2 separate regions of the Homo sapiens genome follow, and region 2 is linked to region 1. Evidence: fine-mapped expression QTL. A gene starts in region 1. The other region holds a variant in brackets. All regions are shown on one strand. Distances are between the middles of the regions. Region 1 holds the start of SPTSSA (serine palmitoyltransferase small subunit A). Region 2 has its middle 87 kb from the start of SPTSSA.

The links. PIP is the estimated chance that this variant, and not a neighbour inherited with it, causes the effect.
Region 2: its variant is fine-mapped to the expression of SPTSSA in thyroid (GTEx, PIP above 0.99).

What each region holds. Positions count from the first base shown.
Region 1 is chr14:34,459,096-34,464,477 of GRCh38, forward strand. It overlaps SPTSSA (serine palmitoyltransferase small subunit A), which reads right to left and starts at 3,145. Exons shown (of 2, transcript NM_138288.4): 1 at 3,001-3,145. The coding sequence starts at 3,112. RefSeq lists enhancers at 2,358-2,467, 3,008-3,958 and silencers at 2,868-3,037, 3,158-3,667.
Region 2 is chr14:34,372,666-34,378,047 of GRCh38, forward strand. No RefSeq gene overlaps it. Among named protein-coding and RNA genes, the nearest start is that of SPTSSA, 87 kb to the right of the region's middle. The variant T/C (reference allele first, on the strand shown) is at 2,505.

The sequences.
Region 1 (5,382 bases):
TATATAGCAGGAAATGTAAACTAATGCATCTATCCTCTTTAAGAAATTAATCTGGGCCAGGCGCGGTGGCTCACACCTGTAATCCCAGCACTTTTGGGAGGCCAAGGCAGGCGGATCACTTGAGGTCAGGAGTTTGAGACCAGACTGGCCAACATGGTAAAACCACCCCACCCCCACCCCACCCCCAACTCCGCCTCTATTAAAAATACAAAAATTAGCTGGGCGTGGTGGTGGGCACCTGTAATCCCAGCTACCTCAGAAGGCTGAGGCAGGAGAATCGCTTGAATCCGGGATGCAAAGTTGCAGTGAGCCAAGATTGCACCACCACACTCCAGCCTCGGCAACAGAGCGAGACACCGTCTCAAAAAAAAAAAAAGAAAAAGAAAAAGAAGAAAATTAATCTGGCCAGGCGTGGTAGCTCATGCCTGTAATCCCAGCATTTTGGGAGGCTGCAGTGGGCAGATCACTTGAGGTCAGGAGTTCGAGACCAGCCTGGCCAACATGGCGAAACCCCATCTCTACTAAAAATACAAAAATTAGCCAGGCGTGGTGGCAGGCACCTGTAATCCCGGCTATTCTGGAGGCTGAGGCAGGAGAATCGCTTGAACCTGGGAGGCGGAGGTTGCAGTGAGCCAAGATGGCGACATTACACTCCAGCCGGGCAACAAGAACAAAACACTGTCTCACACACACACACACAAAGAAAAGAAATCAATCTGAAGTCTTCCTCTGTTCAGGACTTCTAACTCAGAGACAAATTTTCAGACAGGCAGAGGCAAATTTCTCTAAATTTTAGGTTTCTAGGATTGATGATTAAGTTGAATGTAATGTTTAAGCTGTAGAAAGTATGCCTCTTTCCAAAAGCCTGTAGCTGGCCACAGATTAGTTCTGGGTGAAGCTTACTAATCATTAATGGATTTATGAAATTCAAACTACTTCAGAGTAAGCCTCCTGACAAGTAGGGAAAAAAATCCAGTTTTCTCATTCAGTTCTTTCCACCAAGCTAAAATGAGGATTCAATCTCAAATTGATGTTCCAAACTATCAGATAGTTTTAAATGATTCTAGAAGTTGAAGTGGAAAAATATAAATACAACAGCTGATAGTAATTCAAGACTGGCTTATGTCAAACAATTGCATTTCTAACCTGAGTTAATTCAATAACGTGAAATTTGAAATAAGATTTTTTTATCTTAAGTTTAAAATCATAAGGTTCTATAATATTGGATGTCAGTTGGTTGCAGTTCTCACCTATTTGAAAAAAAAATTGAAACTACTTGTCGCTAAACCATGGTAACTCAAAAACATTAAAGGCAAATATCTACTAAGGCACTATATTTCATTTCATAATTTATTTCTCCATCCCCCAAAAAAGGCATCACCTAGTTATTTATAGGACACTATCACTATTGCAACATAACAGAAAAATCTTAACATCATTGATAACTGTAGCATTTTAGTGTGTAAAATCTATATTAGATTTTAGGTGTCAAATCTATACTAGATTCTAATAGTGCACTCTACATTCAACCTCTGATTTAAAGAGTTTCATTTTAACCCAGCATTGTTTAAATTAATTTTAGGATGTGTTATGTCAGTCAAGATATACTTGCTTCTACTGAGAGACTTCTATTAAATATGCATTCAAGTATATATTTTACAAGGCATGACCTTGCGAGCCCTAAAGAGTGAGACTAAACTGCAGCTACAAATAAATGGTGCAGGAAATCAAAGCAAACTATATTCAGAGTCTAAATCCAAAATATGCATTCTGGTTCTTAAATTCCAGGTTTGGAAAGAAATGCCAACAGTAATAAATAAATAAACTGCTTTGAAAGCATCTCAAATTCCTCAAAAGTGCTTAAACAAAAGACTCAGCTTTGAGTACAACCTTAAGCTATCTCAAAACAAATAAACACACTTGATAAGGCTTAGAATGAAATTACCTCAGTCACTCACTGGAATGCAACAATGCATTCGCAAAGTTATTCTGAAGTAAGCTACTCCAACTAAACCACACTGAAAAGGAGAGAACGTGGATAAACTAAACATGTTTTGTGAAATACCTGTTTTGTATTGGCCTGAGTTTTTTAAAAGTTACATCTCATTCATTATCAGTATTTAATCTGCAAGAATATCATCAAAGGATGTCAATATGGACAAGCAGAGACAAGAAACATCAGACTTTCAGGGAGCCTATCTTCACAACCCTGAGTTATTAACTGAAGTTCTCAAAGTTAGATGAGTTAAGATACAGACAACGTGCTTTGCACAAATGCTTTGCTTATAGTAACCACTCAATAGTCATTAACAAGAATTTATTAACTATCCACCAAAACACAGTTTCAAACCCTACCGACAACTAACCACAAATTGCACCACTTTTCGGGCCGACTTCTACGGACGGTGCACAGAAGCAATAAATACACTTTTAAAACTCCCCAACTTGAAGACCAAAAAGATACAATAACTTAAACTGCTTTCAAAAACTACTGGAGTGTCATGCCTACAAATTCAGAACCTGGCTTAAAAGCTAGTTAACTGACTAGAATTCTTGGTAGACCCAAAGCCAACTAAATCAGGAACACTTAAAGGTCAAAGGCGTCCAAGCCGGGAGCGATGTGCTCCACTGTTACATGATCCCCGCCTCCTACAGGAACAGGGGACTGAACCAAAGGCAGTTGCGGCCGAAGTGCAGGCGACACACAGGGTTACACATCACCTTCGGAGATTTCCTCCAGGAATCAAGACGCTTCCCCCTTGGGTCCAGCGACTCACAGGTGACCCCGGATCTCAAGAGTTCTCGTCTCCCCCACCCCCCACTTAACCCCGCGAGCGCCGCCCTCGGCCCCCAGACCTCCCCCTGCACCCCCGGCTTCCGCGCACAGGACCGGCGGGGCCGCCGCTCCAGCCTCCACCCCAGGCCCGGGGCCTGGGGAAATGCGGCCCCGCGGCCCGCGCCCCCAGCCCGGCCCCCGCGCGCGCGGCCGGGACAGGATACTGAACACCGTCCGCTCCCAGGGCTCCAGCATGTAGAGCGCCGTGACCAGCAGGTACTGGTAGTAGAACCAGGACATCTGCTTCCAGGCCCGCGCCAGCGCCATCCCCGCCATGCGCCTCCCGCGATGCAGCTCACACGTCAGTCTGTCCGGCCGGCCGCCCGCTCACGTCCTAAAGCCCCCGGCCGCCAGGCCCGCCCGCCCGCCACCCAGCGCCCATTGGCCCGCCCGGCCCCGCCGTCACCCGCGGCACGCCCAGACCCGCGCGCGCCCCGGCCGCCGGCCCCCAGCCCCGCCCGACCCGCGCTCATTGGCCAGGCCGCTACCTCGCGTCGCGTCGTCCCCTCCCGTTTCCCCGCCCGGGCATCGCCCACGCTAGCCGGAGAACGGTCCCCGCGAGAGCGCCCAGCCGCGCCCCACCCCGCCCGGGCCGGCCGGTGGTGGGCGGGGCGTCAGTGCCGGCCGGGGTCCCGGGGCCCCCGCAGCCCAGCGGGCGCTCGGTCCGTCCAGACTGGCCCAGAGCGCTTGCGGAAGAAATATTTCTGGAACACTTGTTATGCCTCAGGCATCCTTCTGAGAAGGAGGATTGCCAGGGAGAACCGGAATGCCTTCGGTTCCTTACCTTGTGCAGCTGGCGGCCTAGCTGGGAGACAAGCATTAATCAAGTCGTGATCCGTGTAAGAGGAGATAAGGGGCTGAGAGAGGGTGAGGAGGCGAACGCCACCTAATAAGGAGGTCTGGAAAGGCGTCCTTGTAGAAGGGATGCACATTCGGCCTCCTTCCTCCCTTCCCCCACCCATGCACACACACACACACACACACACACACACACACACACACACACACACCCCTAGACGGACATAACCCATGCACTCCCTAACCCAGAGACCACTTACCAAAAACATCTATCTGCCCACCTCTTAGTGGCTGTAGGTAACCACCAAGTGGGTCAAGGCCAGAAGCGCGCTGATCTAGTGGGTTCTGCAGAAGACAGGCAGCTTGAGATTGGTGTGAGGGCTGGTGATACTTCCCTAGAGATGCACTCCTGGATGCCCAGATTTTCCCACTGCCAGATGGGCCAGCAACATTGCACTGGCCACAAGGAGCTCCATGCACTGGTGTAGCATGTGAACTGCCACAATTAAATGGCCTGCTGTTTAAATGTTAAAAGTCTTCCAGGTTAAACATACTACTGCTTAAACTTTAAAAGTTTCATGGTTAATAACTATTCATTAAAAGTACCAAGTGCCGGCCAAGCGCCGTAGCTCATGCCTGTAATCCAAGCACTTTGGGAGGCTGAGGCTGGCGGATCACTTGAGTCCAGAAGGTCGAGACCAGCCTGAGCAACATGGTGAAACCCCGTCTCTACCAAAAAAAATAAGTAAATACATAACAAAAAGTTAGCCAGGGGTGGTGGCGTGCACCTGTAGTCCCAGCTACTCAGGAGGTTGAGGCGGGAGGATTGCTCGAGCACGGGAGGTCGAGGTTGCAGTGAGCCAGGATGGTGCCACTGCACTCCATCTTAGGTGGCAGAGCAAAAGAAAGGAAAGAAAGGAGACAGAGAAAGAGAGGAGAAAACAGAAGAGAAGAGAAGAAAAGAAAGAAAACAGTAAGTAATATCAAGTGCCAGACATTGGGATAGCAAGCCAGATAGACTGAGACCTGCCTTCATAAAGTACCCAGTCTGCTGGGGAAGAGAGGCAAGTTAATGGATTACAGTGAGGTGTGGTAAATGATATTTTTGTGGATCGTATCCTTTAGGATACCAAGATAGCCCAGACAAAATCAGATTGGGCTTGTGAAAGTCTTCTGAGAAATGGTGCTTGAACTGAGTGTTGAAGGACAAGCAGAAATGGAAGAATGAATGAGCTTGGGGAAGAGAGGGTGAGACAGACATTCTAAGGATGAAGTTGTGATGTTTTTAGAAGACTGGAAGAACTTCCATGTGGCTGGAGCAAAAAGAATGTATATGCAGTAGCAAGAGATGGGCCTAGACAGCAAACAGGGACCATATTCTGAAGGACCTTGTTTGAGAAGCTAAGAAATTTTTAACTTGATGTCCAAAAGTTACTGGAGCCAACAACTTAAATAAGATTTTCTTTCAGGGCTGGGTGTGGTGGCTCACACCTATAATCCCAGCACTTTGGGAGTCCAAGGCGGGTGGATCACATGAGGTCAGGAGTTCCAGACCAGCCTGGCCAACATGGTGAAACCCCGTCTCTACTAAAAATATAAAAAATTAGCCGGGCGTGATGGTGGGTGCCTGTAATCCCAACTATTTGGGAGGCTGAGGCAGGAGAATCGCTTGAACCCGGGAGGCGGAGGTCGTAGTGAGCTGAGATCACACCATTGCACTCCAGCCTGGGCAACAAGAGCAAGACTCC
Region 2 (5,382 bases), 86 kb before region 1:
GGCAGGCTATGCTGGCACTCTCTGGACAACAGGGCAATGCTGGGTTTTGTCAAGTCCAGAATCTGCAGACCTCATTTGCAGAGGCCTCCTTAATTTAACGAGAAGGAAACCCTTTTTTATCCCTGGGAGAGCCACTAACCAACACCACAGCAACTTACCTCCACAAACACATAGAGCAAGCTTTCATACCCACATCAAAGGGAAAAACAACTCTGTCTTGCAAAAAAGACATTTAATCCAGCCAAGGGAATTCCTGGATCCTCTCTGTGTTGGCCTTTGGTACAGTATTTTCTGTTGTTGCAGCTGTAAATTGTGAAATTTCTAACACCTGTCATCAACATACTTTGATAAAATCAGGTGAGTATGGATGAGGCCACACTTAGAACAAGCAGGTCTTTCGGGAGCAGGGATTGAGCAAATCATTGTGGAGAAGATATTTTTCTTTCATATGATGCCAGAGAAAGACTGAATCACAGGGAAAGAGTTGAGGAGCACCAGAGTTCTAATACTCAAACTTAACCATCCCAACCCGAGCTAACTGCATTTCTTAGACTGTATGGGGAAAAAAGGAGATGTTACCAACAGGATGTTGAACTGATTTCAACTCCTTGAGTGTGATCTCTCTTCCCTCCTGTCAGCAGGCTGGGACAGCACCCTTCTTCTTCCCTGAGGACAGATCCTGTGCCACTTCATTCCCTCACAGCCACCTTCTTGCTTCCTCCTCCTGCTTCCCCAATGCTGAGGCCAGCTAATTTGAGCCTTAAGATATTGCTACCACCATTGTTACTAAGCTCTTCTGAGCCCTCTTCTGTAGAGCTTAGAAGTTACAGAAGCTGGAACTCTTGCAGAAGTTACAGAAAGCTGGAAACTCTCCTCTGCCCTCCAAATTAAAATCACTTAACCTTGTCCGCAAAGGACAGCTGTCTAAACCTGCAAGTTGAGCTGGAATAGGAATCCTAAACTACTGTGGACCCCGACAACATCAGTCATTAATGAGGACATCTTGTTCTTCACATCTTTGAATTTCATTTCGGAACCATTCCTCAAAAGTAAGAGGTTTCTAAGGAATGAGACCAGGCACAGAGGCTCATACCTGTAATCCCAGCACTTTGGGAGGCCAAGGCAGGTAGATCACCTGCGGTCAGGAGTTCGAGACCAACCTGGCCAACATGGCGAAACCCCATCTCCTCTAAAAATACAAAACTTAGTCAGGTATGGTGGCATACACCTGTAATCCCACCTACTTGGGAGGCTAAGGCAGGAGAATCTCTTGAACCTGGGAGGCGGAGGTTGCAGTGAGCTGAGATCACGCCACTGCACTCCAGCCTGGGTGGCAGAGGGAGACTCCATCTCGAAAAAAAAAAAAAAAGGGGAATAAGGAGTTACTCAGCCTACCACCTTTTTACAGATCCCCAGCAGATGAAGTCACTGAAGCCAACAAACAGATCATTTACTTTTATTTCTAAAGAAGTTCAGCTAATCATGGACATGGATGGTGGTGATAGTTGTGCAACAATGTGATACACTTAATGGCACTGAACTGTGTACTTTAAAATGGTAAGTTTCATGTTATGTAATTTTACCACAATTTTTTTAAATTAAAAAAACTTTAAAGAATAAATTGGCCAGGCATGGTGGCTCACGCCTGTAATCCCAGCACTTTGGGTGGCCCAGGTGGGTGGATCACTTGAGCCCAGAAGATCAAGACCAGCCTGGGCAACACAGCAATACCCAATTTCTACAAAAAAATACAAAAATTAGCTGGGCATGATGGCATGCACCTGTAGTCTCAGCTACACAGGAGGCTGACATGGGAGGTTTGCTTGAGCCCAAGGAGGTTGAGGCTGCAGTCAGCCATGATGGTGCCACTGCACTCCAGCCTGGGTGACAGGGTGAGATTCTATCTCAAAAAATAAAAAAGAATAAATTGAATGCAACATTTTTTAAAAGTACAGCTAAGTCCCAGGTAGCTTAATGATTGCTGATTTATTACTATTAAATTATTTTTAAAGGGAATCTTAGTAGTATAGAAAGGATACCAGCTTCAAGAATCTGTGAAAATCAAAAGCAGAAAGATACATGTCTTTAGGTCAAAAATGCCATTATGGGGCAGGTGTGGTGGCTCATGCCTGAAAGCCCAGCACTTTGGGAGGCCAAGGCAGGAAGATCACTTTAGCCCAAGAGTTCAAGACCAACCTAGGCAACACAGTGAGTCCTTGTCTCTACTAAAAATGAAAAAAAAATTAGCCTGGTATGATGACAAGTGAGTGAGGAGGCTGAGGCAGAAGGATGGCTTAAGCCCAGGAGGTCAAGGCTGCAGTAAGCCATGATCATGTCACTGAACTCTAGCCTGGGTGACAGAGTGAGACCCTATCTCCAAAAAAAAAAAAAGTCTTTAAATTAAAAAGAAGTGCACTCTTTCTGGCATATGAGTACTGTCCCATGAGTAAGATTTCCTAAAGAATGTCACTAAGCTTTTCTTTCAGAAACCGGTTCTTCCACAA[T/C]GGCAGCTAGAACATTCAGATCAGAGGAGTGGCTTATAAGGGTTTCCAGCTTTTTCTTTAACAATAATACGTTGAACAGTTTGTTCTCATGATACCTCTCAGAAATGTCAAGAGACATAGTACTCCATTAACATAAGTGGAAAATGTTATTTGATTTTGCAGATGGTGAAATTAAGGCATGAAAAACCTAAATGACTGAGCTGAGATCATTCCATGAGAAGAGAAGTTCAGATTTTATATCCAGAGGCCACACTTTCCTACCTTCTGGATCAAGATCATTTAAGAAACAAAGGTCACTCACTGTGAATCAATTAACTCCAATGAACATCCACCCACACAAGCACCTACTCTCTTGAATCATGCCTACTGACTCACAATCCCCCAGGAGAGTCCAATACAGGAAGCCCCAAACTGGGGGAAATCCCTGCATGCAGCTTCCCTTTAGGGAAAGGGAAAAGGTGCAATTAATTGTTAATACCGTCAGCTTCACAGACAAGGAGTAGTGAGGGAACTGTAGAAGGTCTTCCAGGATAAGGTAGAAGGAGAGCTCAGCATAGCTCAGGTTCTAACTCACCATGGATGTCAGGCTCAAGAGACAAGGCACATCAGTCAAGAATGATCATGGAGACAGAAAACCCAATGATAAGCCTAAGTAAAAAAACAGATTATGACCATCTCTTGACCAACTATCTGTAGGAAGAGCTATTCTAGCCTGCTGCAAGGCCAAGCTGGACCAAAAACAAAAGAGAAAGCAATGAAATCTATCAGGAATGAATCTCACAGTTCCCTACCACCCTACCTACAAACGCATCTGCACCTGCCCTGAATTTCATATCCTCCCCGCCAGCCCCCACACCCCTCAGAAGAAGAAATAAACCAACCATCCTCTTCCCAACAAAGGTCATCCTTCTTGTGTTCTGGCTCCTACTCTGGCCCCCTCCTCAAGGTATCTATCACCTCTCCCATTTCCTTCACTTCTCCCTTTCTATTGCCACCATTCCTTTAGCACGGTGGTTCTTAGTATTTGTGGATCACAGATCTCTTTGAGAAGCAGGTAAATTTACATGCTATTTCCAAAGGCTTGAGAGATTCCCAGAGCCCTGGAGCCCAGGTGAAGAATCCCAGCTTTAGCAAAAGTCTCTTCCACCTTAAACCTTAGCTGCTAGTGGACATCTCTCTTTCCTTTCAAAGCAAGCTTCTAGGACACAGATCTTTGTGCCCCTTTCTTCTCACTCTCTCCTGAATCCCCTGCCCTCACTCCACTAAAAGCAATCCTGCTAAAGTTACCATTGACAGTCCAAATGCCAAACCCAAGGAGTATTTTTCCCCTCTCATTTGACCTCCTGCTGTATATCACAGCAACCCATCCCATATCCTGAAACTCTTTTCCTCAGTGTCTTGACATCACTGTGATAAATCCCTCTTAGAGCCTGGCCAACAATGTCTTCTTTTCTAGGAAATGCCCTTAACACCCAGTTTGGCCCCCAACCACCCTGTTTTTGTACTTGCAGCCCTCCCGCTTCCTGCCAGGGCTGACCACCCAGGGCTGGGCCTCACCAAGCAAGACCAACCAGTGACTTCCCAAGTATTTTGGAATAGAGAAGAAAAATGAAGTTATTGCATTTCCCAAAATGTTCTAGCCACAAATTCCAGTTACATGCCTATATCTGCATATCTGACTACTCCCGTATCTGTGTAAGACTCTCCTTTCTTTCCTTCAGTCGGTTTGCACTGGCTTCTGTTATTTGCCACCAATGAGTCCTGACTGATATAGACATTCCCTTGCTCCCAATTCACCTTTTCTCTCTCTGGCTGCTGCTTCTCAGTCTTCTCAGTAGGCAACTCCTCTCTGTCTGCCCCTTAAACACTGGTTTATCTATCAGAATTGTAGGGGATAATGGTTAGGCAGACAGAAAATTACTCATGTCAGTGAACCAGATTGACTGAAGCCTTTGGATTTAACTGAACCAGGCCAGGCCTCACTCAGAACAACCTATTTGCTATACAGGTTTCCATGGGAACATAAAACCAAGAAAAAACAATCTGAATAAATAGCTCCAAAGTTGGCTTTCATTAAGCCATACTTTAAAGATGAAATACTCAGAACATGTATCATTTTTTACAAAAGACCAGGACCACCAAAAAAAAAATATATATATATATACTCATATATGTCTGATTTGTAAGATCCAATAATCTGGACAATTTCTGATATGATAGTCAAAAGTCTCACTATAAAAGGGATGGGCTCCTAACATTAGATTCTCTTTGATGTGACACAGTGGGAGGTACAAACATCACTTACTGGTAAACTACTGAAAATAGCAGGTTTAAATCTAACTATGATCCAGGGTATAGGCTGTCGTGTGGGACAACTGATCTGGACTCTCAAAGTTCAGGTCATGGAGAACCAAGGAAGGTTGGGGGACTTCCTAGACTGAGACCACAGAGGGATCCTTCCTCTTCCCAACCCCTGCCACAAAAATCCTATTCCTCTGTCTTCTCTATCTTGAGAAATGTCAAGCTGACCAAGCCAGAAATGTCTCTCTTTCTTGCTCCATAAGTAATCAATCACCAAATCCTATGTATCTTATAAACTTTTCTTCTCTATCTCTACCCCACTGCCCTGTTCTTGTCTTCATTGTCTCTCTTAAACTAAATATTAAACAAGCATCCTCCCACTGGTCTTTCTTGCCTCCAGTCTTGCTGCCCTCCAATCTATCTTCCACCCTTCTTTCTCTACAGAGGATGTTTCCAACACAAAAGTCTGATCACACCACTACCCTGCTCAGAATCTTTCAGTGGCTTCCTAGTGTCTTGAAGATAAAACCTAACAAACTCCTTTTCCATGGTAGGCAAGGCCTTCTGTGATCTTCAT